Regions from separate parts of the Homo sapiens genome. Here all the other regions are linked to region 2. The links come from fine-mapping of genetic effects on gene expression. A gene starts in region 2. Each other region holds a variant in brackets. All regions are shown on one strand. Distances are from middle to middle.

Region 1 (5,000 bases), 97 kb after region 2:
GTCATTGCTCTAACCTTTGAATTCTGTCTGATCTGTCCGTCAAATGCTTTGGAAATGAATGCTGTATTTTTAACTTCGTTTTCATTGACTGAACTGTCATTCTTTAGAGTTTTGATACGTGTTCTTCCTGCAGAATCCAGTAAAGCCATGCTCGTTTTGTTGGGGAAAAAGAAGCACCCTAAGCATCGGGTCCCAGGCTCAGGCTTGGAGCCTCATAGGCTACGTTAGACCTCGGTTCCACCACTCACAGGGTGTGGCCTTCTTAGGTTGGTTACTTAGCCTCCTAGTTTTTTGTTGTTTTTTTCTCCTAGCCTCTAAACCACCAGAGATTAGCCTCCTATTGTGATCCTCTGTTTTTACATCTGTAAAATAAAGACATCATGGATTTGTTGGTATGGAAGTTTATAAGGTATTCAGTTCTGTGTCTGAGAAAAATTATGGTTCATTTTCTCTTGTCAAGGAGTGGCACCAGCAAAGATAAGGAGGTCATATTATGGAGCGAATGTCAGTGCGAGAATCATCTTGCATATCAGTAACTTAAATAGTTGATTCATGTGGCGTATTTTTATTAGTATAAGCTAACCCAGATTGTCTAAGTGTAGGGGAAGGATCATTAGATTTGAATTGTAAGTGCTGTGTTGGAATCTTGGCTCCGTGACTTGCTGTTCTGCTTTGGGAAGGTGTTTTAATTTCTCTCCACTTCAGTGTCTTGATTTGTAAAATGAGAATAATGATAGCTACCTCTTAATGTGGTTAAGATGACTGTTGAGATGATTAAATGAGATTATACCAAAGAACCTAAGAGTGCTGATACTCAGTAAGCACTAATAAATGGGGATTCTCTAGATTTTGTAAGTAAATGACCAATATTTCTGTCAAACTGCTTACCTTTGACTGAAACTTTGAACTTTAGTGAGACCTTCATATAATTTTCATGACACTTGACTTAATAACTGAACATACTGTGCTATGCTTTGGGTATAAGAGTATGATACTTTTGTGTATTTTGTAATATTTAAGTACTTCTTCCTAATAAGCTGTTGGGTAGAGCATATATATCTGTCCACCAGCCATCTTATTGAGAGAGACAATCTGTTCCTTCCACTGAAAGCTTAGGATCACAAGCTGAAATTTCCTTAATATGAAAACAAAAACAAGTTCACATTTTGGGTTTCATAAATTTAATTATGGTTAACTTTGGAAATTAAAATGTTTTCTGAAAAGTAACTTTTCTGTTCTCCCTAGGAAAAATCCATTATTAGAATGTAAGAGACAAAACAAATCTTTTAATTATACAGCAAAGGTGCCCCAGGGCTCAGTGTGTTCCTTTGCTGTCTTTTTTGCCAGCATCTTATTTGATCCTTAATGTGTCTGGAATGTGGTTAAGAATACTAAAAAATATTTTGAACTAGACTAACGTGCCATTAGCATTACCACCTTGGTTTTACCAGCTGAGTGAGCATTCAGATTCTTGATGTGCATATGAGGTTAACATCTCTTTAAGATACTGCCTGTAGGCTGGGCACGGTGGCTCATACCTGTAATCCCAGCACTTTGGGAGGCTGAGGTGGGAAGATCCCTTGAACCCAGGAGTTAAAGACCAGCCTGGGCAACATAGTGAGATCCCTGTCTCTACAAAAAATAATAAAAAAGATACTACCTGTAAACTAAGGTGGGGTTTTTCATTGATTATCTCCCTCCTCCTATTGTAAAACGTTTTGAATGAAATAAAATACATTTTTCCTTTGTACTCTCTTCTCAGCTTTTAAATTTACTTTTTTCAAGTCCTAGAATGTTTTTCAGCCTTATTTTTATTTATCTAATAAAACCTCTATTTTGGGGTTTCTTTTCATACCTTCAGTACCATAAGAAGATTTCAGGGTAGTTATTTGACAGGTTCTTGTCAAATAGTATAACACAACAGTCATCAAAGAAAAGGTGTGGAAAATAATGTTCAGTGTTCCAAAGTAGAAAAATTAGATATGTTAGTTATTGTAAATAAAAAGATAAAAACATGGATTTTCTAGTGTATGATACATGTATTAGTCTTGGTTCTACCATCTTAAGAAATAGTGGTTTTTTGAGATGAAGTTTCACTCTTGTCACCCAGGCTGGAGTACAGTGGTGCGATCTCGGCTTACTGCATTCTCCGCCTCCTGGGTTCAAGCAGTTCTCCTGCCTCAGCCTCCCCAGTATCTGGGACCACAGGCACGTGCCACCATGCCTAATTTTTTGTATTTTTAGTAGAGATAGAGTTTCACCATGTTGGCCAGGCTGGTCTCGAACTCCTGACCTCAGGTGATCCTTCTGCCTTGGCCTCCTCAAAGTGCTAGGATTACAGGCGTGAGCCACTGCACCTGGCTAAGAAATAGTTGTTTCTGAAAGTGATGCATGTTACCACAGGAATTTGACTAGTAGTGGCAGTATTTCCTTGTATGCGAACTTAAGTGCTACAAATCTCATCAGTCATATTTACACACTTGTGAGTGACAGGGAAGGGGAGCAAGAGCCTGCCTGTGAATTGTCTTTGCTGGAAAATAATCTTCTATTAATTTATTCTCTTTAGGGTATTAAAAACCAGTGACATGTAGCATGAAGGCGGATGAGGCCCATATTGCTAATGTGATGCAGATGTGGACGTTCATTGTGGCTTTGGTTTTTACCCACAAAGGCTGTAAGTCTGGAAAAGACTGGCCCATTGCCATGAGTAATTATGTTGTCTCCCTCTGTCTGAAATGGGGATTTGGGTGTGATGGGTTCAGGGAAAAGTGATGGCTGTGTAATCTCTCCACTCACAAATGCGTTATGACCCTGATGGAGTGCCCAGCTGAGCGCACTGTGGAGTGGCGCATCCTCAGGGACAGAGCCTGGCTATGGACAGGAGAGTTTTGTCCTGCTCTTACTTTTGGGACTAATACTACACATATATGATTTTATGATTTTAGAGACTTGCA[T/C]TATTTGACAAATGGTATTTAAAAAAGTTTTCAAATGGGAAGTGTTTAATTTTGAACTCTGTTTTTCTTGGTGTAAATTTTGCCCTTAAGTGATCCTTTGTCAAACACTTTTTACAAAACATTTAAGAGCAAGACTCTCCTTTCCACTTAGGAAGTATCACTCTTTATTCAGAGGGATGCTTTGAATGAAACCAATAAGTAGGTATTTTCAGAATGACTTCCCCTGTTTGCCTTGTTCATATCACAGTTCTGAGAATGACTGTATTTTTTGACCCATGTCTAGGCACATTTGCCCTTCTCAGCTGGGGCTGCTGCTTGGATAAGACTCTTTTCTGCTCTCTCAGTTATTTATTGCTTCTGTTTTTCTCCCCTTTCCTCACTTTGTGCCCCTTATACTTTCTTTCTACTTAATGTATCTCCTGCTTCTCGACTCCTTTTTACTTTGAGAATGTCAGAGAACAGAATGATCTGTGCTGAGCGCTGTGAGATGATGGACTGGTGAAGAAGGCAGGGGGCGAGGAGGCAAATGAGGAAACCCAAAGCCCCCCTGCCTTGCAGAGGCTGCACCTGGATTGGGGCAATGAGTTGAGGCATCAACATGTGGATTTCATGAGTCTGAGAGATGACTGGGGAGAGTGTCTATCCAGGGCCAATAAACAGAAGAGGATGGTTGGAAACATGGATTTTAAGGCTAGGAGTTGGAAGCTCCAGGTCCCTATCTCTGCCAGGGCCTTCAGTAGCTACAGGGTAAGACACTTACACTTACCTGGTAATCAGTTTCCTTGTCTGTGAGATAATGGAAATAACTATCTGTTCTACCTATGGACAGGCTTATTGTGAAATTGAAATAAGATAGGATGTACATAAAGGCCCCTTGTAAGGGATTAAGCCCAATGTGTGGAATAAACCTGCCCCATACCCTTGGGGAACAGTGTGGCCTAGTGGGTCATATCGGGCTGTCTCATAGGCCCGTGTGGCCCATCTGCGTGGAGGACTGGTTCTACCTGAGGATAAGTAATATGAGAGATGATTTCTATACTAAAATAATCACACACGTTGTCTTGTACAATACAATGCTTAACCTTTATTTTAAAGATAAAACATGGCACAGTCAAGCTGCCGTTACAGCTCTGTGTTCTTTCTGGGTTACCTGTTTACACACTTTTGTATATTAGACTATTTCAGTCACAGACCTTGCGAGCTGTTGGTACAATCAGAAGCTTTTGTGTTGAGGACTCAGTGGACATGTGCTCAGAGGCTCTCATTAAATCTCTCTGGGCCTCAGGTTCTTCCTCTCTGCTGTGGGAACCAAATGCTAGGTATTGGTGAGAATTAAATGGGAGAACATCTGGCACAGATAATGGCTAAGATGTTTAAGTTCCTCCTCCTAATTATGATGGTAGTAGTGACGATGGATAGTGCCTCCTGTAGTTCGGAAGGAGGAAGTTAATTCTGGGTGGGAGGTGGTCAGCAGAAGTTCCAGAAAGGAAGGAAGTTCGGTTATGAAAGAGGGATGAAATTTGGATAGTGGACAAGAGACAGTTTCAGGTGGAGAGAGAAGCCCAGACATGGGAGCTGGAGAGTTGGGCAGGGGTGGGGCAGCAGCAGCAGCCAGGCCATGGGGAAGTGTGACATGGGGACTGGGCAAGGCCAGGAGGGAAGCCCAGGAGTGACTTGTGGGACCCTGAGTGCCAAGCAGGGATTTGGACATCGCCTTTTGGAAAGGCAGGGCTTTAGAAAGGTGTGTGCGGTGGTGGGATGCAGTGTTCACAATTTCCTGGTGAGCTGATCCTTATGGGTCCCCCACCCCTCAGCAGGTATCTAGAAAGATTATCTTGGGCATAAAGTGACCTCTGCCCTCCCTGTTTGTCAGAAGCTCTTGCTCCTGGCTCTTGGGGTTAGGTTTTCTGCTGCTGCTGGCTTTACCCTGCAGTTGGTTGAAGGGTTTCCAGTTAGTCTTTGGAGGCTGACAGTGTAGGACCTGGTTTCACCTGAGCTTGGGGCCCTGCTCCAGGGAGAGAGCTGTTGTGGGGGTCATGATGTTTC
Region 2 (5,000 bases):
GCCCTTCAAACCATAATTTGAATGTAAATGTTATACATTTTATAATGAAATAAAAATAGCTTAATGCATCTGAGTAGATATGCCACACACCTATGGTCCAATGACTGGATGCTGACTTTCATATGTGGCCCAAATTACAAAGCAGCAATCAGAACAGACAACAACAGACAACAAGGGAACTTCTCTCCCACGGGTTCAGCAATCTGACCCAAACTCCATAGCCCCAGACAATCTGAATACACACATGCAAGTGTAAATATGCCCCAGTTTTCCCAGGAAGCAGGAAAATCTACACAGCCTCAATGAAGAGCACTATTTTGGACTGTTGTTGTCTACCCACCCTCTCCAGGGCTTTAATTCTTTAGAACTTCCCTTTTACACTTCTTTTCTCATCTGGTCAGCATTACCACTTTGCAGCCACTTATTTTCCATGGACATCTGCCACTTATCCTAACAAATAGCATTAATACAGTTGAGAGCATGGAGCGTTTAAAATATGGACTAATAAATGTATAAACAGTACTTTGAGAGGGAGGGAAAGCACAGGTTAAAAAATGGCTAGATGTAGAGAATTAAATGAAATGTTTATAAAGCCGTTCACACGATGTCCACACATTGCTGATGCTAGATAAATATCAAGTCCCTTATTCCTTCTCTTACCTTTTAGTAACTGGATTTGTCACGAACAGGTACTGAGGTCTGCATAAATCAAGGCATGATTTCATCTCTGGGCCTCAGTTTCCTCATATATAAAATTAAGACAGTTGTACTATTGTACTAGTTTTTTTTTCAAGAACTAGTTCAAAAACATTCCCAGCTCCCACCCCCACCCCCCCACCCCACAAGACTCTCCTCAAGACTCCTTCAGTAAATATTTGGAAAAAGGGTGGGAAGTTTGTTTCTGCCACCTTATATTCTTCCCAATAAAGGCAAGAAAAGTCAGGGATGGCTGGCATTGTGGGCGTCGGGAGGGAATGCGAACCAACATTTACTCTACTTCTCTCCCAGCCAGGCATGTTCACATACCTTGATCTTAGTCAACTGGCCTAAGTTAACTTGTTCCCAACATGACAAAACCCGATGGCATTCTAAAAGCAAAGCAAAGCAAAGCAAGGGCAGTCGATGAGTTGTGTTAACTTAGTTTTCTATCTCATGTTAACCTCCAAGGAACTCAAAACAACTCCACAGCGAATTCAATATTAAAATAGCTCTGGGACCCCAAGATTTATTTCACAGCTTAAAGCAAGGTCACTATCAAGTCCTCGGCAAAGCTCAAAATACAATAGAAAACTCCCAAATCAAGCCCCAGCTTATTTAAATGCTTAGAAAAAAAAAATAGCCAGGTGCCGTGGCTCATGCCCGTAATCCCATGGGAGGAGTCCAGACGGGAGGATTCCTTGAAGACAGGAGTTCGATACCAGCCCGGGTTACGAAGCGAGATCCCATCTCTACAAAAAGTTAACACACACACACACACACATTCACCACCTTAGCCTGGCTTAGTGGCGGGCGCCCGTGTTACAAAGGGAGATCCCATCTCTACAAAAAGTTAACACACATACACACCCTACCTTAGCCTGGCGTAGTGGCGGGAGCCTGTAGTCCTCGCTACTTTGGAGACACACACACACACACACACCCGTAGTCCTCGCTACTTTGGAGACACACACACACACACACACACACACACCTTAGCCAGGCGTGGTGGCGCGCGCCTGTAGTACCGGCTACTTTGGAGGCTGAGGCGGGAGAATCGCTTCAGCCTAGGAGTTCGAGGCTGCAGTGAGCCGAGATTGCGCCACTGCCCTCCAGCCTGGGCGACAGAGCGAAATCATACCTCTAAAAAAATAAATTAGAAAAATAAAAAGACAAAAAGAGCCAGCCCGGTTTCGGAGAGGCAGGTGCAGCCTCAGCGCCCTGGGCCTGCGTCCCCGACCGGGCCCTGGCTGCGCTCCCGCCCGCTGCGGGCCCCGGGGACGCACCTCGCATCCCGCGCTGGGCCCCGTTCCGTCCAGCCCGGGGGAGTGGAGGAGGCAGAGGCCGGGTGGGGAAGGGCCTCCAGAAACCGAGCTCCCGACGACGTCTCCCGCGACCCCAGTGCCCGAGAGAGGAGCGGCCCCCGGGAGCGATCCCACAACCGCGCGGGGCTGCGCCGCCCCGAACCTCCCCGCGGCCGCCGATCTGCTTCCAGGGCAGAGGGAAGGGGCGGTGACGGGGCGGGGCGGGGGCTGCGGCGAGGGCGGGCGCCGCTGGCGAGGGAGGGCCGCCAGCATCCTCCCTGGCCGCGCCGCACCGCGCCGCGAGGAGTCCGGGGGCTGCGCCCACGCCCGCTGCCCGCCCGCTCGTCGGCTAGTCCCGCCGTCCGGCGCGGACACGCGTGCCCCCGGCTTGAACCGGAACCTCTTGCCGAGGCGGCCGCCGTCGCCGCAGCCGCCGGGGAAGCGGACACCAACTGGGGAAGCGCGGGGGGGAGGCGGCCTGCGCGGCGCCGCCCGCCATGGCCGCGGCGGGGTGAGGTAGGCGCGGCGGCCGCAGTCGCGCGGACCCGAGCGCTCCTCCGCCGCGGATAGGCCGGCCGAGGGGGAGCCGGGGCCGTCGCCCGCTCGTCGCCGCCGCCGCCGCCGCCGCCCATGGCGAGGCCCCGCCGCCGCCGCCGCTGCTGACCCGGCGGCCGGCCGCCGTTCCGCCCCCTCCCGTGGCGGCGAGCGGGCGGGCCTCCCCACACGCCCCCGCCGCCCGCGCCCCGCGTCCACCCGCGCCCCGCTCCCGGGGACTGGGAGAACAGGATAGCAGCAGGAGTCGGGGGGCCGCCGAAGATGGGGAACACTACCTCGTGCTGCGTGTCGTCCAGTCCCAAGCTCCGGAGGAATGCCCACTCCCGGCTGGAGTCCTACCGGCCAGACACGGACCTGAGCCGCGAGGACACGGGCTGCAACCTGCAGCACATCAGCGACCGGGAGAACATAGACGGTGAGTGCGGCCCGCCGAGCCCCCTACCCGCCCCCGCGGCAACAGTCGCACAGCCAACGTCGGGGCGGCCCGGCTGCTCTTGCTTGCCCAGCCGGTCTCGGCGACCCGTGCATAACCGGGGCTTCGCCCGCGCAGCCTAGGCGCCCGGGGCCCCGCAGCCTCTGGGCGTACCCCTCGCTGGTTACCCCCAAGTGAGCGGCCGCGGAAACTTTGCAGGCCCGCGGCATCGAGCACGGCGGGCCTAGGGCGGGTGTGTGCGCGTGGGTCGCGAGGTGACAGGAGCCGGCCCTCGTCCTTAATGGAGCGGCCAGAGCTGGGTGGGGGCGGCCCGGGAGCTCGGGGTTCCCGGCACTACCTGAATGCAGCCCGAAGCCAAGTTGTGCACGCGTTTGTCCTATAAAAGCGAAGTGAGTGGATTCCCATTTTGGAATCCCGGTGTCTCCAACCTCGAGTTGGAGAACCATGTTGAGTCAGTTCCCCGGAACCTTACAAATGGACTCCACTTCCCCCGTTCCCATTCTACCGTTTTTTTTAAAAAATGATTTTTTTGAGTGGCGGTTCCAGGATTAGTCAAATAGCTTCTCCCGAGAATGCTCTTTAAAAGATTGTCAGACACCTTTGGGTTAAGTCTCAGTTTTTGCATGGGCCCGAATTGCAGTCCTATGAATTTCTGATTTATTCAGGTGACTTTTGGTTGGTCTGGAGTTTGCAAAAAGAAAAAAAGCTAAGACTAATTACTGCACGCAGTAATGTTTTATTTATTTTATTGGTTTGGCAACATATTTATTAGCACTGTTGCTCAGTGATAACGACAGAGGGATATTTATGCATCATGCTTAAAATATAGTTTATAGAATTTTCAACTGAAAAGATTTGAAATTGGAAGTATCTTTTTATGACAAGGTGATTTTTTTAACCCAAACATCTTCTCATAGTTAATCTGGTTGAACTAATATGAAGAAATTTTTGTGTGAATGAATGAACACAACTTCATAATTCGTTCCTGTCCACTTTAGGATGGAAGATTCTCTCCACTGTGGAAAGGCCACATTTAAACTTTGCTAAAGGAAAGATTTTTCTCGTTTGTCTTCGTGTAATTTCTTCTAAATGGTAGTTTAATCTTTTTAGGAGAGCATCTTTATTAAATGAGTGCCATGTATAAAGGGAGTAACACAACGTCTGGTTTCTAGTACGCGCTTAGTAAATTATGGTTCCATATGACGTGTCTAGTGTTGTTATTTTAGATTTCCATTATTTTAAACATACGCTTAGATGTCTTTGAACTACAGCCATACTTTCTTCTTAAATTTATGCATTTAAAGGCATCTAGAAGGATGAAGGCCAGATCGGTCTTGATCACTTTCACAGCCTCTAGCACCTGAAAGAAAAGTCTAGCATATAATAAACAGTAAGTATTGTACTTTAAAGGGAGGAATAAATGAATGAGTTTATTACAGAAAGCCATTACCCAGTCCTATACTATGTTGACAGGCGAAAACATTTGGAAATAATGTCTTCTTTATGATGTGCAGTAAATTTCCTTTTTATGTTGTGCAGTATCTAGCGGAGGCTTTGTTTTGAATGATGGATCAAAAAAGAAAAAAAAGAAGATTTACATTTCTTAGAGCCAGGCTGCATACAGTTATTATAGACTATTGTAAGGAAATAAGGTGGAAAAAATAAGTGTAACCAGGTATTTGGCACTAAGGCTCAGTACAATTTTGCCAGAGTACAGTGAAATGATATTGTGTGTTCTTTCATTTCAAAGAAATCTTAAGTTTCAGTCATCAGGAATTTTTGAGAGAATGTTTGGAAGACTCTTTTGCAGATTCAGGATAGTTTGAGAGAGTATAGGGCAGGTTTCCAATCTAGGCTGTGGAGTGCCCTCTCATCCCAGATCCCAGTTCATATGATTATGCTAGTTTAAACCCCGAAATATTAATTCACCTTCTGTCTCTCAAATTCAATAAATAATACTTCTAGCATTGACCCAGCCAGCAGTTCTCAACATTGGTTTCAGTTAAACCAGA
Region 3 (5,000 bases), 120 kb after region 2:
TCAGCCCTTAGTTGATTCAGAGCAGAAAATGGAAGGGAGAGTGAGGGGCAGATAGGGAGGCAGGGGACAGAAAGACCAAACCTGAGAAGCAGAAGCTACTTCTATCAGCTGAGGACCTCAAGGCTGAGCCACAGAGAAGAGAACAAATTCTGCTTAGCATGTGGAGGGAAGCCCACGTCATATTTTGTAAAAAAGCTTATTTTAACTGATGATTAAAATGAAGCTTTAGTTCAGAAGAGGGTAAAAATAGATGGAAATCTGTTCAGATGGGATTTCTTAGTTGAATCTGGAGTGATGCAGATACACCGTGAGAGGCAGAGCTGAGAGTCAAGAGGCTCCCGGGCCAGCGCTGCTGTCTGAGAGGCCACAGAATCTCTTCCAAAGGTGTAGATAGACCAAGCTTGTCCAGCCTGCAGCCTGCAGGCCGCATGTGGCCCAGGAGTGCAGCCCAACACAAATTTGTAAACTTTCTTGAAACATTATGACCTTTTTTTGCATTTTGTGTTTTGTTTTTTGCTCATCAACTATTGTTAGTGTTACTGTATTTTATGTGTGGCCCAAGACAATTCTTTTTCTTCCATTGTGGCCCAGGGAAACCAAAAGATTGGACATCCCTTGTGTAGACTAATGAAGTGACGCTTCTTCCCAGGCATGATGACACTGTTTTGACAGGGCTGCACCCTGTTTTGACAAGGTGGGACCCTGTCTTATAGGGGTATAAACAAAGGAAGTAATGTGGTAGGGGATGCAGAGTTTTCTCAGAACTCCTCCTAGGTTAGTAGTAGCGGGTTCCACCTCCTCCACCAGCTCAGCCCCTGTAGAGCATACTCTCATTGCACCATCATGACTTGCCTGGAGGTTGAGGAATGGGCAGATAATTATTATACCTGTTACTTAATCAGATGTGCACTGGATGAGCACCTGCTTGGGGCTCTCCTTGTGTTGGGTACTTGGGGGGAATACATACTTGGAGGGAGTACTTTATACCAGGACTAACAAGTACAGCTAACTGATCTTCCAGTCCCTTGCTAATTAAAAGGAAGGGAAAAAAAGGATTACTGGCTGAGGTAGATATAAATGCAGCCTAAAACAACATCTGATAGCCTGGAAATCAGATACAAAAGCTGTGAAGACCTCCATTGCATGCTAGTGGAATAGCAGGGGATGTTAACAGCATCTCTTCCTTGGTGAGGTAGCATGGTGTCATGGGAAAGAATGGCCTTTGTTTCAGGTAGAGCTCCCTGATATCCCTGACCTAGTGTCTCCCTGCCGCTTGGCAGCTGTGTGAACTTAGTAATGTTCTTTAACATCTCTGAGCCTCTTTTAAAAAATCTCTCTCTCTCGTATATCTCTATTTAGTTATTGAGAATCAACTCACTGTAGGCATTGCATAAGAGAAACACAGTGGTGATGCCCCCTGGCCCTCAGGGTCCCACCTTGTTGAAACAGTGTCATCATACCTAGGAAGAAGCATCACTTCATTCATCTACACCATGGGTGTCCAATCTTTTGGCTTCCCTGGGCCACATTGGAAGAAGAAGAATTGTATATGTACACACACACACACACAGGATAATTATTAGAAGTTTCAAGGTTTTGTGGAAATTGGAATTTATGTAGGTGAAATGCCTGGATACAGTGCCTGGCACATAACATTCATTCAGTAAGCATCAAGCTACTGTTATTATAAATATGATTTGAACAAATGGAAGAGAAAAAAGAAAATACCTTTAGCAGGAGCTCAGAGGAAATAATCAGCATGAAATGTTCGTGGAACATATTTAATGTGTTATCTATTCTGTTGCATAAGGTTTTCTAAAGTGTCCTGAATGTGGCAGCACAGTACCTATGGCACGGCACAGTATCATAATACTCCTCACTCAGTTATTTCCTCCTTTCATTAGCCCAGGTTCTCTTGTTTTATTTGTTACTCAGTCATTTATAGAGCATGGATGATAAGTGATGCTCCATGCCAAGCACTGTACTGTGTCTAAGATGAACAGGATACAGTATTTGTAATCAAAGGAACTTGTATGTGGAGGTTGGGCTAGGACATCCACTTATTATAAACTGAGGGAGGGATGTGAAGAGTGGGGAGCAGTGGGCAGGGGTGGGAGGGGCTGATGATCCACCCAGCTGGCCTGAAATAGGAGACGATGGCATGGACAGCTCCCAGGCCCACCACTGGGCTGGCTGAAGGTCTCCTGTTTATGGAAGCAAGTGGGGGATCTGAAGGATGACACTTTCCATATCCTGTGCCTGAGGTTTGGTTGTGTTAAAGAGAAAATTATTCCATGAGTCTTGTTAAAGCACAGTAAGGCAAACTTGACTAAGGACCATCTCGATAGGTAGAGGGACTGCAGCAATGGGGTTTTGTGATGGGGGAAAGAGATTAGGTTCAAGTCTAAATATAGCATGGGCAAGTGGGAATTTATGGCCAAGGAGCAAGGGATGTGGTTAGTGAATGGAAAATTACTAAGAGGAAACATCAGGAGTAAGGAGAATTCTGGCTAAATCAGTCTGACAGGATTCTTGCTGAAGGCAGAC[A/C]GGGAGGATCACCTGAGGGTGATCAAGGACAAGGAGCTTGATTAGATGTCGAGGGTCAGGGGTTCTTGCTAATCTGACTTAGCAGGGTGCTTTGCTAAAAGTGGAGTTTATAAGGAAGTGCACAGTTGGGCCCAGGAGAAGGTTCAGAAACCCGACCAAAGCTTGGCCAAGCAAAGACTCTTTCTTTAGAGTCATCCCCCAGCATCTTGGGGATCTTTTTCAGAATACTTGGGACCACTTGATGAAAATTTGAACCCAAGGTCTCTTTTGCTGCCCTTTTTCTAGTGTTCATGGCTTCTATGTGTATTATTCATGGCAAAGTATGGGCCCTTGGTCTACTGAATGATTTTGTGTTTGAAAGTGGAAATGTCTGATTTGTTATTGAGGTATCTCAGTGTTAGCATCTTCATTTGTCCCTGATGTTATTGAGTCCAGCCTGCATACGTAAATGCATAAATAAATCTCTCTGTGGATTTTCTGTTTTTTTTTCTCCCGGCACATCCCACTCTTTGCACCTCTCCTTACACTCAATATAGTTATATTCCAGGCTCCTCTAATCTCCAGGCATTTGCTTCAATGGTGGCCACACTCTAAGGCACTCAATTCAGTACTGGAGTTTGATCCTAACTCTAGAAAATCAAGTCTTTACATGTCAGCCATAAACCTCTGGAAGTGGATTAAATAGGAATTTTGATGATTAAATGTGAATATTACCACAATATAATAAAATTGATGTTTTTCACTAAAGTAACATTGTGACACCTTTGCATCCACAGAAACAGTGTTTCTTCAAAGCAGCCATGTTAGGTGGAGCTCGTTTTGATGCCTCTTTAGGAATGGCGGTAGTCCTGGCTCACCAGTGGCAGAAGGACCCCGTCTTGCCACTGGATAGTGTATCCGCTCCCTTTCTCCTGTATTTTGCTCCTTGAGATTTCCTGCACTTAGCATCTCTGCATCTTCACCCTCATCTCACCCTTCTGGTATTGCTTTGCCATTATGATCTGAGAAGATCCTCTTCTGAAAATCAGGAAACCATGGTGAACTAGCTAGACAGTGAGACCATGCTGAGGCTGGAACCAAGAGCCTTACTCTGAACCTAACAGGAAGCGATTGAACTTTCAGAAACACAGAGGGCAAGGACCTCTCTGCCAGGACCTGTCTTATTTGCTTATTTGCACTCACTGCTGCTGCAGCTGCTCTCTGTGACAGCTTCTCAGAGTGTGCGGGTGGAGGGGTCATTCCAGAGCAGAGGGGCTGGTGCTGGATTGGAAAGCTGCCCACCACTCCAGGTCAGAAACACTAGCCGTCCCTCTACCCACAGCCTGCACAAGTTGTGTCCCAGATCTCAGTGTGGGTGGTGCCCCTGTCAGGAGGGCTCTTTCCATTGAGCGCCTCTGCAGGGTGCACTGCTGTGCTGTGAGGAAGGCAGAGCAGAGGACAATGGGATCTTGGCATTCCCAGCATTGTATTGTGTATCAGCTACGTTAGGCCTTAGTTAGAGATATTTGGGGAAATGGTTGCAGCGGCACTTTTGGAAAGTATAAACTGCTGGTAAATGGAGGTTCTGTACACTGAAAGTGAAGGTGTGTCTCCTTGACACTGCCTTTTGGCAGATGGAGGTTCCTGATCTTCATGGCTTCTAAGGAAGTGACTTCTTTCACTAGAGGGATTCAAGCTAGGGTTCTGCATTCAGATGTGCTAGATGTGGAACCATAGTTGTGCTATGTGCTAGGAGTCTGACTTTGTATGATTTACCTTATCTGGTTCTCCTTATTCATCTAAAAAATAGGATTAGTAATGTCTGTTTTAGAGAGTGTCTGTGAGGATTAAATAAACATGTCTGGCACATGGTAGATGCTTACTAAACATTAGTTTCTTCCTGTGTTCTTGGTTACCCACAGAGTTAACGTTCAGAAAGCATCTGTTACCTCAGTAACAATGGACGTAGAATATGCTAACTCAGGTGATCCAGAGTATATGCATATATGTATATAAGTTACTGAATCTGACAGAAGGAAGAGTCAAGGATGTTTTGGTGACTGAACTCTAAAGCAGCATAAGCTCGTGGAAGGTAATAAATAGTGAAACTCTGGAAGCACCAAGTTTAAAAGGAAAAAGAGTCAATGAAGCTAAGAGATTACAATTTGATAACAAATGACATCATATACCAACACTTTAGGAAACAACTGTCAGGCAGAACTTTAAAAAAAGATTTATGGAAATTGTTTTAAAACTCATTATTAAATTTGGCAGCACATCCTCAACTTGGAGAGAAAGGAAGAGGCAAAGAAATCAAAGGCTCTGACAGTAATTTATGGATGTAGGCAAATGATAAATACTTCCAGAGCTTGAAATTTACACCATCATTTGCTTGAAAGTAACCACTTGTTAACTGGATTTGGGAAGTAAGTTTATGACATTGACCTACTTCCTGATCATCAGCAAAGAAGCTG
Region 4 (5,000 bases), 46 kb after region 2:
GAGAAACATAGCTGTCATCTCCAGGAATTTTAGTACTCATCAGTCCCAGGCTGTCATATGAAGCATTCCACTCAGCGCAGTAAAAAAATGTGAACTAGTCAACAGTTTGTATGGGAGGACTACTTTGTGTTTCGAACGTTTGGACTTGGAACACTGTCCCAGATATTGGTTAGGTTACACTTGGAAGATGTTGTTTTGGAAGCGAGTAGGACTTGAACTCCAACAGATACTGGGTTAAGGAGGCTGCCAGGTACCAGTCTTAGATCCTCGAGGGCTTGGATCTGGAAGTGCTGCTCCCATTTTGGTTTGTATTTTGTAATGAATGCTTGGAGTCAGCTCAGGGTCCAATCATTGAAGCATTTATGTGTGAAACATTGATTATGCAGTGATTACTTGAGGAGGTGACTGGTGGTCACAGCTTATTTCTCTAATGTCTTTCCCTTTCTCTCCCACTCCTGATTTCCACCTGGGAATCCTATCCTTCCAGTGTGGAATGTATCAGAGAGTTTTAAAGCCCAAAGAGACCTTGGAGGTGATTATTTCTCTTACGTGTTGTATTTAAGGAACCTGATAATAACTAACTTCAAACATTTATTTCAGAAAGTTTCAAAACTATACAGAATTAAAGATAATAGTACGATGAGTCTCTATATTTCACCCAGATTTAGTAATTTTAAGATATTGCCCAGGTACAACTATCACATATAGAGCACTTCACATGCTTTACTTTTATCACCTCCCAATAGCCTTTTGGGGTTAGATACAAATATATTTCCTCTCTTGAAGATGAGAAAACTGACAGGCCCAGAGAGATTAAGAACCTTGCCTGGGGTCTCCCAGTCCGCAGCCAGCCGCCTGTGACTTCACCCTCTCTGCTGCACTGCCTGGAGAAGTTTTAAAGTTTGCCTGACATACACGGTCAGCTGAGGTCAGGCTAGAAGTGGAACCAAGAGATCTCACTCCTTCGTTGTTTCTTTTATTGTGATTTTCTGTGGCTTTTCTCTTTCCTTTATTCTTTTGATTCTTTTGCAACTGACTTTCTGGGCTTGAAGCGTCCGAGTACCATTTTAACTCTGATAGGCAGACAGCGGCATCCCAAGGCTGGGGTGGTGGGAGTGGTCTGCTCCAGTGCTGGTGATGAGGGGTGCATTGTCTGTGGAGGATTTAATAACAGTAATAAAAGCATCCAGAAGTCTGCCTGTAAAGTCTAAATGTCTAGAATTTTGCCTGCAGTTCTAAACAATGTCGGTGATATTCTTTCCCCCAAAATCTTTTGTTGGTGTTCTAAATAATTGCTTTATTGAGTTTTAATAATAGATACGTAAGCTTCAAGTGAGTACTTCTTGAGTACTTAGCCTTTAATAGATACTGTAGGCCGAGCGCCATGGCTCATGCCTGTAATCCCAGCACTTTGGGAGGCCGAGGCGGGTGGATCACCTGAGGTCAGGAATTTGAGACCAGCCGGGCCAACATGGTGAAACCCCGTCTCTACTAAAAATACAAAAAATTATCTGGATGTGGTGGCACGTGCCTGTAATCCCAGCTACTGGAGGGGGTGGGCTGGGACAGGAGAATTGCTTGAACCCGGGAGGTGGAGGTTGCGGTGAGCTGAGATTGTGCCATTGCACTCCAGCCTGGGTGACAGAGTGAGACTCCGTCTCAAAAAAAAAAAAAAAAAGAAATACTGTATGCAACATGGAGGTTAAATCTGACACTCCTGGTGTCAGATTAGCCCTAAACACATGGGGATTCAGCTGCTTGCATTCATTTCCAGAGTAACTTCTTAAGACTTTAGAATTGTTCAGAAAGCTTGCTTAGGACAGTCTTGTGTATTTAACTCTGTAGTATTACGTATATCTGTTTTTAAACAGTAGATTTGAAATAAATGATAGTGTTACTGATGACTATAATTGTCACTCTGTTTGATCACTTGGAGTTTTTGTCCAAGAGTCCTTAAAAATTACAACAGTGAAACAGAATGCAAACCATGAGGTGTAATATTTTTGCTTGGTAAGTGCAAAAATAATATCTGTAAAATTAAAACTTATCACATTTAAGACAGTTGTTTTAAAACTAAAGAACAAATCAAGAAAATAATAGTTACTGATTTTTACATAACTATTACTGAAAATAATTTTTTTCATACATGGAGGGTGTGTTAAAAAATATTCCTTCCTGGGTGTCTAATGTGTTAGATATGCCGTTGTAGGCGAAGGCTTTTTCTGTGATTCGTTTTTAAGTGAGGAGATTGAGAATCTTTCATATGTGCAACTGGAACCGTTAGGATAGGAAGAAAGTTACACAGGGCATTACTTGTA[C/T]TGAAGGATTACTCTGTGTCTGAAATTGCTGGCACTTGGTACAGCTTTGTCTCACTTTGATATTTGTCAAGCTTCAGGCCTGTCTGCAGTGCTGACAGACTGTGTGTGCGACAGAGGCAAGAGCTCCTGCCGGCTCCTTTGCTTGGAGCATGCAAAGGGGGCTTGATGCCTTCTCTTGGGAGGGGGCCGTGGCGCCTTTGCAGTGGTAAGACCTCAGCCAGAACCCTGGCTTCTTGACTCTCATCTCCAGCATCACTTAGAACAGTGCTTCTCCATTGATTTTGCCCCCAGGGCACATTTGGCAAGGTCTGGAGACATTTTAGTTATCACCACTGGATGGGGGCTGCTATTGGCATCTTGTGGGTAAAGACATGACTCCTGCTAACTGTCCTGTGGTACACAGGACAGCCCCTCTACCCCTCCAGTAAAGAATTACCGGGCCCAGTTGTCCAGTAGTGCTGAGCTTGAGACACTGACTTAGGGCAAGTTACTTAAACTTGCATGGCCGGCTTCTTCATTTCCTCAAAATGGGAAAAATAACAGCAGTACTTTTCTCATAAGGTTGTTGTGAAAACTATGGGAGACAGTACATTTAAGAGCTCAGTAATTATAATTGTTGTTATTATTATGATTAACTTAGTGAAAATAAAATCCAAAAGGTAAAAAACAAACAAACAAACTGCTGCTGTGATATACTCATGACCAGTAGAGAGTCAACCATACTACACTCTGTGTACCCTTAGTACTACACAGCTGACCCTGAACACCTTGGGTCTGAGCCACATTAGTCCACTTATATGTGGATTGTTTTCAATTGAACATGGATCGAAAACGCAATATTTCGGGATGCAAAACCTGCGTGACCAAGAACTGCCTTTTTCTGTATCTGTGGGTTCTACAGCTCCGATGGGGAGACTTGAGCATGCACAGATTTTGGTGTTTGTCCAAATACCAGTCACCTGCAGATGACCTAGGGGTGACTGTAAATGGATAACAGTGCTTAGAATAATGACGTTGAATCAATATTCAGCGTATGAAACTTAGTAAAGTAGGAAATTGAACTAGAAACTTTTAGAAACATTTTCTTTTCTTTTTTTTTTTTTAAGATGGTGTTTTGCTCTGTTGCCCAGGCTGGAGTGCAGTGGCACAATCTCGGCTCACTGCAACCTTTGCCTCCCAGGTTCAAGCAGTTCTCCTGCCCCAGCCTCCCGAGTAGCTGGGATTACAGGCATCCGCCACCACGCTCAGCTAATTTTTGTATTTTCAGTAGAGACAGAGTTTCACCATATTGGCCAGGCTGGTCTCAAACTCCTGACCGCAGGTGATCTGCCCACCTTGGCCTCCCAAAGTGTTGGGATTACAGGCATGAGCCCTCGTGCCTGGCCTGAAACATTTTCAAAAGAAGAAAGTATTTCTGGCCAAATGTTAGCTTATCAATATTTTCTCAACTGTTCTGATTGTGTCACCTCATGTGCCTGTTAAGCTACCTGACCCCTCCCTTAAAGTTTTTGATAAAGGGATCGGGGAATCTTGTTTTAACATAATAGTCCTAGATGATTTTTAAGATCAAGCTAGATTGGGGACAGTACTTTTAGGTAGAAAAAAGATTTATCAACTAAGATTGGGAAAAACCTGGCTTAGAGTAAAGCAGGTTTCTTTCCTGCACTACTCTAAGCACTTTATATGGTCAATGGTAAATTGTATTATGCATTGTGGGGAATGAGAGTAAGAATATATATATATATATATTAAGTAACATTTCCTAAACTTAACTATGAAATGTTCTGTTAAACACATTTTCTGATGATGTTTCACAGACAGCACACTGGGAAACAATTACAACTCCCTCACCATAAATTCTGATTAAAGGAGGGTTTCCTTCCCCTTCATATTTTAGCAGAATAGCTATATAAACCCAAAAGTATTTGAGACAGGTCGCAATCAGTTTAGAAGTTTATTTTGCTAAGATTAAGGACAATGACGGGGATTAAAAAAAACATGGCATCACACAAGCAGTTTATAGTCTGTGCTTTTCTCCAAAGATGATTTTGAGGGCATTAGTATTCAAAGGGGAAAAGCAGGCTGAAGGGGAAAGAGGGTAGGGTATTACTGAATCCACATGTTGCAAGAGAAAAGGAGCAGGTAGGGGAATAGTCAGTTACGTATTCCTCTGGAACTCAGTAAATCAACACTTTACCTAGATAAGGTGAACATAGAGTAGCCGCCTGTGGAGATACTTAACGTTTTATCAGTAGCTATCTACGTAGGAACAAAAGGAAAGGCAGCATCTTGCATGACTTAGCTTTCAGCTTAATATTTCTCCTTTTGACATATTGAATTGGAGTCCCAAGTTTTTGTTTTCCTTTCACAGCTACTTGGCTTTCGAGTGGCCCTGCAGTGGAGGGGCGGGGTGGGTACACATCACGACTCACATAGGGTGAGTCCATCTGGGTCTATACACTCATGTGTGGAGATGACTCCAGGCCAGTCCTGGGCACATAGTTTGCCTGTCCTTCTCCCCCAGGGACAAGGTGCCCCTGGGACCCTTTCAGTTTAGGTTTGTGGGAAGAGCTTTCCTCACAAATTGCTTCCGTGGGCTTCCGAGACAGCAGGCCTGCCGTCTGAGAATTCTGTTGGCTCCTCAATTGATGCCTTGGTGGGATTATCTAATTTCTGCCATGG
Region 5 (5,000 bases), 110 kb after region 2:
AGTGATTTTTTTTTTTTTTAATTGAAACCTCCTGGACATTTTGGATCTTATTTAAACCTTCTGTTTTAGTTGACTTATGGCATTGCTCTGGCAGAGGATGGTGGGCCACTCCCTTGTTACTGCCAGGTGGAGACAGAAGTTCAGGTTTTACTTAGCCGCTGTTGACACTGAGGGGATGTGGCTGGGGCTCTTTGTTATAGTTGGTGGGAGTCTCACTTCTCCATGTTGTTTTCATTGATAGTGCAGCAGTGTAGGGAGCTGGTTATTACTGGCAGTGGAGGATGAAAGTCCTGGCCCCCTACTTGGCCTTCTTGGACCTAGAGGTGTTGGGGCATCTCATTACCACTTCACAATGGCAAAAGTTTAGGCCTCACACTCAGCCTTTGTTGGTGTGGATGGGACTGGAGCCACAGTCGTTTTTGGCGCCTGTGGAGTAGAGTGGTTATTATCTAAAAATGTTCTGTCTTGCTAGACAGGCTCCTTTCTGTTCTTTGGACAGAGAGAGCAGGTGTTCTTTGGTCTGTACCCTTCATGTTTGCAGATTGTCTCCTTCTTCAGCTTTTATCTGAGATAAGTGAGGCAGAAAGGAAACTCAGGGAACTCACCCCTGTGCTGTTTCTCATGTCCTTGTGTCCCTGGCCACTCTGGAGCAGAGGTTAGCAGAGGTTCTCTGGAAAGGGCCAAGTGGTCTCTGAACTGCTCAACTCTGCTGTTGAACCTCAGAGGCAAGCGTAGATGAGATGTAAGAGAACAGGCCTGGCTGCTCCATTTCAGCTTTGCTTATGAAAACAGCCTGGCCTGGATCTGCCTACCCTCCTCCAGACCCTTGCTTCCCACCCCTCCTAGTGCTGACTCTTTGCTAGATGTCTTCAGAATAAGCTTCAAGTTTTCTTCACTGCAGCGTATTCTGCTGTTTTAGACCCCTGTCCGGGGCACAGCTTTGTGGTGGTGATCACCTGTGGGAGAGAACTTCAGAATCAGCTCCTAGAAAGAGTGATTCTGGGCAGCAGAAAGGACGGAGCCTAGAGCAGTTTCCAAAGTAGAATGAAGTGTAATTGCACACGTGGGACTCCAGTCCCTGCTTATCTTTACTTCTGAGAAGCATTACATACATTTGTTAATTATGCTACAAGAGAGGTAGTCTTAACTCATAAACTGAGCTGAAAGAAGTCTAGATTTTCACGTGTCATTGCTATTTTAAGACATCTCTTTTCACACATCATTTTGTTTTAACAAGTGTACCTGGGAAGTTAAGGATGGGTGCTCTTATTTCCATTATATTGCTTTGGGTTTTTCTCTAGAAGAGAGAGTATACAATTGCCAATTCAGAAGTGATTCTATATTGTTAGCACCACTTATAAGACTCCATTTGCCTGAAATGGAAAGGAAGAGTCCCATAAGGAGCTAGAATGGGGCCCCATGTGGTATGAGGGTCAGGGAGAGTCTGTAGCACTGACAGGTGTTTTGGCCTCTTCTGAATACCGCCTTGTTTTACCATGTTGCAGAATGGAACCATTGTAAGCCAAGAACAAGTTGGCCTTTAAACTGTTGTTAGCAAAGAAGCAGAAGCAGTCTTCTTTGAAATGACTTTCATTTTGGAAGGAACAGAGACAAGATGAATAAGAGCTTTCCCTGATGTTAAGTGTTTGTGGCCTTAGAGAGTGGTACAGAGTTTCCTATGTATCTGCATTGTGTACGTTTCTTGTTTTCTTAATTTTAGGGCCCTATTATTACTATGCTTTAGCTTAGCAATTGGGCTTTTCAATGGAAAAAGCGGTAGGAGGCTGGGCGCAGTGGCTGCGAGGCCGAGGCGGGAGGATCACTTGAGCTCAGGAGTTCGAGACTGGCCTGGGCAACATGGGCGAAACCTCATCTCAACTAAAAATAAAAAAGGAAATAGCCAGGGATGGTGGTGTGTGCCTGTAGTCCTAGCTACTTGGGAAGCTGAGGTGGGAGGATTGCTTGAGCCCAGAAGACGGAGGTTGCATGAGCTGAGATTGTGCCACTGCACTCCAGCCTGGGTGACAGAGTGAGGCCCTGTATGAAAATAGAAAAGAAAAAGCAGTAGGTTATTAGCATAAACTTGATAAGAGTTCATGCTGGTGTATCTTATTTTAAGGTGTAGATGTCTTTAATAAAGTTCATTTCATTAAATGAAGTTAATTACGTATTAATTGTAAAATAAAAATGTGTTTCTCTGGAAAACAAATTTGGCTGTATGATTTAAAATGATCATACTTAAGAGAATACCCATTGTT[G/A]TAAAGTCTGTATGAAAGGAAAAGTTCCCATTTATAGTTTTAGTTAAAACGATGACATAATTTGAAAGAACTTAGATTCATTGTTGCATTTTAAATAATAGCTTAAAAGTCCTAGTAAAGCAATAGTGAAAGTGTACCTGGGTATAACACATGGGCTGGCTAGAAATGTCACTTAGCCTGCATGACCCACAGAGTGTTGCCATAACTCCTGATGTGTAGGGCCCTGTTTGCGTTGGAGTGATGCAGATCTCTGAGGCAGTGCTGGTTGCCCTCCAAGGGCTTATGGTGGTGGTTGGAGAAATAGAACTAAATAAGGGAAAATTAGGTAACCTTGAATGCTAAGCTTAGAACTTTGAAGCAGAAGCAATGTGAGTCATTAAAAGGACATAAAATTAACTCACAGTTTATTAGCCATCTGCTGTGCATCAGGCTCATAGTGTGGTGGGAGAGATGGCTTTATAATTGAAAGGTAGTGAAATAATGAGACCGGAGACTCATACAAATTGCCTGGATAGGAGGTACTTTGTTGGGAGTTTAGGGTGGTCTACCTGCAAGACTTGATATTTGAAAATAGTTTTTAAAAACAAGTAGGAGTTTGCTTGTAGGATGAGAACTTTTTAGTTAAGGGAAAACTGTTTGAAATACTGAGATATGAAACAGCATGATGTATTTGGTGAGTAGAAGACATTTTCATGTTTGGAACATATAGAGTATGAGTAATGAATTTGGGAGTATGAATAAAGAAACTACTGGGGATGGCTACGGGACGGGCTATTGATGTGGTTTGTGTTATTTTCTCCCTTTATTTCATATACAGTCGTGTCACTTAATGAAGGTGGTATGTTCTAAGAAGTGCTTTCTGAGAAATGTCTCATTAAGTGATTTCGTCATTGTGTGAACATGAGAGAGTGTACTTACCCACAAATCTAGATGGTCTAACCTACTACACATGTAGGCTGCATAGTATAGCCTGTTGCTCCTAGGCTACAAACTTGTACAGCATCTGACTGGACTGAATACTTTAGGTAATTTGAACACAGTGGTTAAGAACTTGTATATCTAAACATCCCTAAACATGGAAAAGGTACAGTAACAATACGGTATAGAAGATAAAAAATAGTATGCCTGTTTACCATCTCCATGAATGGAGCTTGTAGGACTGGAAGTTGCTCTGGGTGAGTTAGCAAGTGGGTGGAGAGTGACTCTGAAGGCCTAGAACATTTGTGTATACTACCAGAGACTTTGCAAACAGTGTACACCTAGGCCACACTAAACTGATACAAAATATTTTTCTTCACTAATAAATTAATCTTAGCTTGCTGTAACATTTTTACTTTATAAACTTTAAATTTTTAAAACTTTTTGACTTTTGAAATAACAGTTATAACACAAACACATTGGATAGCTGTACAGAAATATTTTTTTCTTTATATCCATACTCTGTATGCTGTTTTCTGGTTTAAAATTTTTATTGTCTTTTTAAACTTTTTTGTTAAAAACAAGACACAAACACACACATTAGCCAGGCCTACACAGGGTCAGGATCATCAATATCACTGTCTTCCACCAGCACCTCTGTCCCACTCTGTAGAAAATGAAGTAGAGGTTCCTCTTCAAAGGGACTTTCCTCGCAGTCTAATTGGGAATAAATAGTAGCCTCTCTTAGAAGCAAAATTTACTCAAAGACCTGTGCTAATATTCTTAAATATCTGCTAGCCGTAATAAAGAAAGGAATATACTTTGTGTTCTTAGCCCCCATCTTTTAGGCTAGATATTTCCCCTGGCATACCTGTACAGGCCCAAGAAAGCATTAGGTCATAGCCTGTTCCTCTTCCTTATTTGGAGGTGTTTTTGCCTTTCTCAGCATTCCACAAGTTACTTCCTCCTTTCCTTTGTTCTCCTCTATGTATGTCTCTTTTGGGATGTTCTAAGTTGCTAGCCAATCAGGACAAGTACAGAATGTGAGGTCCCATTCCAGCCAATGGAAACTGGACACAGCCATAGGGTGGACGTGTCAGACTATAAATGACCCTGTCTCTTTTGTGTGTGCTCTCTGGCAAAACTGCTAGCGAGTAGCACCCTTTCTGCAGAAAGTAAATTAGCCTTGCTGAGAGATCCTTTGTCTTAGGGTTGATTTCTGCGACATTGAATACCCATTTCCAACACACTTGAAGGGCTTTAGAGGTGACAGCACTCATGGAGCTGTTATCTCCCATGATAGCAAGGCCTTCTTCTGGTACCTCCTGCAGGCCCTGCCTGAGGCTGTTTCACAGTTAACTGTTTTTTGGCTTTTTTTTTTTTTTTTGGAGACGGAGTCTTGCTCTGCCATCCAGGCTGGAGTGCAGTGCGTGATCTTGGCTCACTGCAACCTCTGCCCCCCGGGTTCAAGCTATTCTCCTGCCTCAGCCTCCCAAGTAGCTGGGATTATGGGTGTGCGCCATCACGCCCAGCTAATTTTTGTATTTTGAGTAGATAAGGGGTTTCACCATGTTGGTCTGGCTGGTGTTGAACTCCTGACCTCAAGTGATCCACCCATCTTGGCTTCCCAAAGTTCTGGGATTACAGTTGTGAGCCACTGTGTCTGGCTATAACTGTTTGACTGGCAGCACAGTAGGTTTGTTTACACCAGCATCATCACAAACACAGGAGTGATGTGTTGCACTACATTATGATGTCACTAGGTGATAGCAGTTTTTCAGCTCCATCATAAGCTCAAGGGACTACTGTCATTGATGCAGTCTG
Region 6 (5,000 bases), 200 kb after region 2:
TACATTGTGTATAACTTAGATGAGAAATTAGCTTTGCCTGTGCATGAGCTATCCTGGAGATCAGAATACCATTTCCTGTAGTTTCTGAGAAGAGACAATTGTCTAGTAGAAGCTTTACAGGCGACCGAAGGACTCTTTGTGTCTCCGCCACATGAAGAGCTGTGTGCTCCGAGGCTAACTGAACAGAAACCCTGTTGGCTTGTTGCTCATTCATTCATCTGTTCATCTGTTTGTTCATTCCTTCTCATTGAACTCACAGCCTGAAGGATAATAGAACAGACAATCAAGTAATCATTAGATGATTAGGAATGATTGCAGGTTCCTATGTCATAATTGAGTAATGTATGTACTGCCCAGCTTTGTTCCTCAAAGGGATTTTAAGTTCTAACCAAAACACGCAACAGGGCAACAGGGTTGAGATTTTTATGTAGGGAAATTCAGTGAAGGGAAAAGAAGATTAAGAAAAGCAGATGAAACCATAGATGAAATTAGTACTGGAATACATGCCATGAGGAAGGATTTATTTTGAAGTTGCTGTAGATGGAAAGTGGCGGGGATTTTTTCTACCTTTAATTCCTAAGAAAAATATGGCCTGGCTGTGAAAGATAGTGCCTTCCTGGTCGGGATTATTATTTAGCTTGAAGGATGTTCAGGGCCAGCATTTAAACCCCACAGCTCACCCAGTGTCTGCCTTGAGAGAACATCTAACAGGCATCCCTTGCTGCCCTCTGCATCACTCACCAAAGGTGACAGGGCTGATGAGTTCATTTCTTTGGAGTAGTGTAGGACTGGCACTTTTCTTGTGAATAATTGTAACTATTGAAATCTTCATTTGTCCTATGAAATAGACTGGTGTTGACCAGGATACCAGTTTGTATGGGGGTCTTGTTGGTTGCAGCTGGAGAGGAGCAGCCTTGGAGGCCTTCGTGGTAGGTGCAGCCCTGCAGCCCATCCTCTGGTCTCTGCTGTCTGCTGAGGCTCATCAGCGCAGCTGCATGCTTGTGGGTAGAGGGCACAGAGACGTGTGCCTTGAGCAAGACTCTTGTAGGATTGTTCTTCCCTCCTCGTGTTCCCTAGAGTTAGAAACAGTCATTCAGGACAAGTCTGGCCTGGAGTTGACAGAGATGCATTCATTAAGCCCTTATTTTCACTGGGCATGTGTTTGGCATCTTGGCATGCTGCTCAGCAGGCAATGGAGGAGGAAGAGCAGTTAGCCCTGGCCGTGCTTCCCACACGGAGTAGGACTGCAGCCTGCTGTGGACAGAGAGCCTACAGGCCCTTCAAACACCCAAACCTACTTCACCCAAAGCAAATATTTCACAGCTTAATCAACTTCCTTTTAAAAGAGTAACAATAACTTAGATCACTAAGTGTATTTTTTAGCCTCCTAGAATATGCTGAAAGCTCTCCTATGGATACTGCCACATGAGGAAATTTGAAAGGGAGTGAGGTAATTGATTTGCACCTTGATGAGTTATGTAGAGGCCTTTGTGGTGTACCTGCAGCAGCTGGAGGAAGCCAGGCCTGCAGTGAAGTGGGCAGAAAGGCCTTGGCATCCAGCTGCCCCTCCACGAGGCCCTTCCCTTCCCTCAGGAGTCACCCAAGCTGACTGATCCTGAGAACCATGCATGGCACCCACTTTAGTCCTATGCGGTACTTCGACAACATGAAAAGCTCATTGCCTGTCTGAACTGGGATCTTCTGTTGGAAGGATGAGAAAGCCAGAGGCCAAGGCAGAAGGAGATATATTGGAAGGTCCAGGCAGGTCTCGCATATCCCTTGTCCTGTAGGTCTGGAAGGACATCAGGCTGTAGAATGAGGCCCACTGCAGGTTTCTCTTCCTTTGGGCTGCTTCTCTCACCTTTGCGCACTGCTGTGGCTCTGGGGCCTTAATGTGCAGGTCGGCTTTCTTGCTTCGGATGGGATGTGGCAGGACAGTATTAATAGCTTTCCCCACCCTTCATCACCTCTCCGTTTAAGGCCGCACACCCTCTAACCCAGTCTCCTCTTTCAGTTTTGGAGAGGGGAGATTTTGACTGGCCCCAGTTCCTTTGGGGTCAGATGTTCATCTGTAGAAAAATCAGTCATGACCCAGAGTTGAAGGAGCTTGGTCCTGCTCTTTTTTTTCTCACTTTGCACGCTCCTCTGTTCAGAACCTGTGGTGGTTCCCATCTTCCTCAAAGGAAAACACAAAGCCCTTATGTTACTGACGGGGCCTAGCAAGATTAAGCCTCCCATCTCTGCCCAGCTGCCTCCACTCTCCTCAGTGTCATGCTGCAGCTGCTCTGTTCCCTGGATGTACCGGACACACACCTGCCTCGGGACTTCTGCACCTCAGGACTTCCTCCACCCCTTGGCACCCAGCTCCCTCTGTCCCAGGTGTGTTTGAGATGCGTCCTGCCCTCCTCCTCCCCATCTTTGCTCAAAGGGCACATCAGGGGGCTGTTGCCTGGCCACCATATCTGAAGTTGCAACCTCCCTCCTGCACCGCACTCCCTGCTCATCACTTCCTGCTTTTTCTCCACTTGCTTATCACCTGTCAGCATGCTTTAGGTTGAAGTCATTAATTTTATTGTTTTGTCAGTAAGCCCCATGCGTAAGAAATGTCTGGTCTTTTTGTCCATGTGGTTTACTACAATACGACCAACATCTGGAACACAGCCCAGCTCATAAT[G/A]AATGCTCAGTAAGTATTTGTTGAACATGTAGTGAGCACAGTAATAACTGCCTACTGGCTGAAGTACATGGTGGTGATGTGCCTGAAACATAAGGATCATTTAATACCTATTTATTATCTTCCCCTGCCCCAGTAGTTTTAGAACATTGACACATTTCATTTCATTGCTTAACTTTTTTTTTTTTTTTGAGATGGAGTCTCACTTTGTTGCTCAGGCTGGAGTACAGTGGCACAATCTCAGCTCACTGCACCCTGCACCTCCCAGTTTCAAACGATTCTCCTGCCTCAGCCTTCTGAGTAGCTGGGATTACAGGCTTGCGCCACCATGCCCTGCTAATTTTTCTTGAATTTTTAGTAGAGAAGGGGGTTTCACCATGTTGGCCAGGCTGGTCACTCCTGACCTCAAGTGATCTGCCCACCTCAGCCTCCCAAAGTTCTGGGATTACAGGCGTGCGCCACCACACCCAGCCCTGCTTAAGCTTTCTGAAGGGACAGAAAAAAACTCGTCAACTTCGGGGACATCACTCAACTGAACCTTGATTGAGCATTCCGTGTGAGGTTAGTTCTGTCTGTAGAGCCACAGCAATGGGAGAGGGAGAAAGAGAGGAAGTTGGTGATTGATGGAGGGATTCCGGCATAAGGGAAGGGGAACCAAGAAGAGATCGAGGTGGCAAAGTGACAGCTGACCAGACAGGAGGGGGTGTGGTCCCTTTCTTTATTTCCTATTTTTTAATAGCTTTATTGGGACATATTTTATATACCATACAATTCAGCCATTTAAAGTGAGCATTTTAGTGGGTTTTAGTACATTGTACAACCATCACTACAACCTAATTTCAGAATATTCCCTTCACCCCATAGAGAAACCCCTTACCCTTTGGCATTCACTCCTCGTTCTTAGCCTCCACCCAGGCCCAGGAAACCACTAATCAAATTTCTATGTCATTTGCCTATTCTGAACATTTCATATCAATAGTATCTCATATGATAGTTCATGATTGGCTTCTTTTACTTAGCATATGTTTTTGGGATTCATCCATGTTGTAGCATGTATAGTATGTCCTTTTTTATTGCAAATAATATTCCATTGAGTGGGGATACATACACACACACACACACACACATATATATATATAGATCTATATATATGTGTGTGTGTGTGTGTGTGTGTGTGTGTGTGTATGTATATATAGATCTATATATATGCTGCAGCCCTAATCCCTGTTGGAGTGAACAAAGGAGGATGAACGTGAGAATAAAGACAAAGACAAAAGAATGTATTTGGAAGAAGGGGTCAGGGGGCTCCTTGCTTTTAGTGAACAAGGGCCCAGAGCTTCTATAGCCCTTCGTATTTATTGAGTAAAGGAGATACAGAGAAGGGGGTGGTTGTCAGTCAGCTGCTTGACTTAGAGCAGGCCTGCACAGCTGCATTCTCTGAACAGTAGTCTCTAGATGTTCCAGTAGATAACCTCAAGGAGCACGGCACCAGGGAGTGATTACACTCAACAAACCTTCTGGTGGCAGGTGCAGTTGTGAGTTTGCCCACATCCTGCATTCATGATAAACAGTTTGCTGTTTGATCATATAGCCTCCAGTGGAATGCTGAGTTGGTCACAACCCACAGGCTTTTGGCTCTCTCTGTCTCTCTCCCTATATGTGTATGTATATGTGTATGTATACGTATATGTATACATATACGTATATGTATGAGAGACAGAGTGAGTGTTGGCCCTCCTTGTACAAGGGCTTTGCACCTGAAGATTCAGCCAACTGTAAAATGAAAATGTGGTTAGGCCTGTGATGGTTGCATCTGTGCTGAACATGTACAGAATTTTCTTCTTGTCATTATTCCCTAAACAAAACAGTATAACCACAATTTACCTAGCGTTTACATTGTATTAGGTATTATAACTCATGTAGAGATGATTTAAGTATACAAGATGATGTGCATAGGTTATATGAAAATGGCTCTGCCATTTTATATCAGGGACTTGAGCATCCTCACATTTTAGTATCTGCAGGGGCCCCTGGAACCAACCTTCCACAGATGCTGAGGGTCACTGCACTTCATTTTGTTTACTCATTCATCAGTTGGTGGACATTTAACTTGTTTCTACTTTCTGGCTATTATGAATCCTGCTGCTATGAACATAAGTTTGTGATAAGATTTGTATAAGTTTGTGATGTAGTTTGGCTGTGTCCCCACCCAAATCTCATCTTGAATTGTATGTCTCATAACTCCCATTATTGTGGGAGGGACCTGGTGGGAGATAACTGAAACATGGCAGCAGTTTCCCCCATACTGTTCTTGTGGTAGTGGATAAGT

Alleles and levels. Positions count from the first base shown, and alleles are read on the strand shown. Sizes are in standard deviations (SD) of each study's normalised expression. Not every link is listed here.
With allele C in place of T in region 4, the expression in lymphoblastoid cells of the gene that starts at base 2,187 in region 2 is lower (moderate effect, 0.72 SD a copy in GEUVADIS).
As copies of A replace G in region 5, the expression in sun-exposed skin of the gene that starts at base 2,187 in region 2 goes up (moderate effect, 0.67 SD a copy in GTEx).
For the expression in tibial nerve of the gene that starts at base 2,187 in region 2, G is the low allele of the variant in region 6 and A is the other (moderate effect, 0.71 SD a copy in GTEx).

Evidence for each region. PIP is the estimated chance that this variant, and not a neighbour inherited with it, causes the effect.
Region 1: its variant is fine-mapped to the expression of CCNY-AS1 in whole blood (INTERVAL, PIP above 0.99).
Region 3: its variant is fine-mapped to the expression of CCNY-AS1 in sun-exposed skin (GTEx, PIP 0.98).
Region 4: its variant is fine-mapped to the expression of CCNY-AS1 in lymphoblastoid cells (GEUVADIS, PIP 0.95).
Region 5: its variant is fine-mapped to the expression of CCNY-AS1 in sun-exposed skin (GTEx, PIP 0.92).
Region 6: its variant is fine-mapped to the expression of CCNY-AS1 in tibial nerve (GTEx, PIP 0.92).

The regions. Positions count from the first base shown.
Region 1 is chr10:35,431,547-35,436,546 of GRCh38, forward strand. The region is part of intron 1 of CCNY (cyclin Y); the gene reads left to right. Among named protein-coding and RNA genes, the nearest start is that of CCNY, 98 kb to the left of the region's middle. RefSeq lists a silencer at 2,289-2,358. The variant T/C (reference allele first, on the strand shown) is at 2,955.
Region 2 is chr10:35,334,238-35,339,237 of GRCh38, forward strand. It overlaps CCNY-AS1 (CCNY antisense RNA 1), which reads right to left and starts at 2,187. Exons shown (of 4, transcript NR_186477.1): 1 at 1,983-2,187; 2 at 1,691-1,839. It overlaps CCNY (cyclin Y), which reads left to right and starts at 2,272. Exons shown (of 10, transcript NM_145012.6): 1 at 2,272-2,970. The coding sequence starts at 2,817. RefSeq lists a silencer at 1,898-2,637.
Region 3 is chr10:35,458,899-35,463,898 of GRCh38, forward strand. The region is part of intron 1 of CCNY (cyclin Y); the gene reads left to right. Among named protein-coding and RNA genes, the nearest start is that of CCNY, 120 kb to the left of the region's middle. RefSeq lists enhancers at 3,272-3,816, 3,817-4,359, 4,784-5,000. The variant A/C (reference allele first, on the strand shown) is at 2,548.
Region 4 is chr10:35,379,905-35,384,904 of GRCh38, forward strand. All of the region lies in intron 1 of CCNY (cyclin Y), which reads left to right. Among named protein-coding and RNA genes, the nearest start is that of CCNY, 46 kb to the left of the region's middle. The variant C/T (reference allele first, on the strand shown) is at 2,319.
Region 5 is chr10:35,439,703-35,444,702 of GRCh38, forward strand. All of the region lies in intron 1 of CCNY (cyclin Y), which reads left to right. It overlaps LOC124902410 (a long non-coding RNA gene), which reads right to left. Exons shown (of 2, transcript XR_007062112.1): 1 at 4,048-5,000; 2 at 3,709-3,893. Among named protein-coding and RNA genes, the nearest start is that of CCNY, 110 kb to the left of the region's middle. The variant G/A (reference allele first, on the strand shown) is at 2,259.
Region 6 is chr10:35,531,178-35,536,177 of GRCh38, forward strand. The region is part of intron 7 of CCNY (cyclin Y); the gene reads left to right. Among named protein-coding and RNA genes, the nearest start is that of GJD4, 72 kb to the right of the region's middle. RefSeq lists an enhancer at 1-498. The variant G/A (reference allele first, on the strand shown) is at 2,675.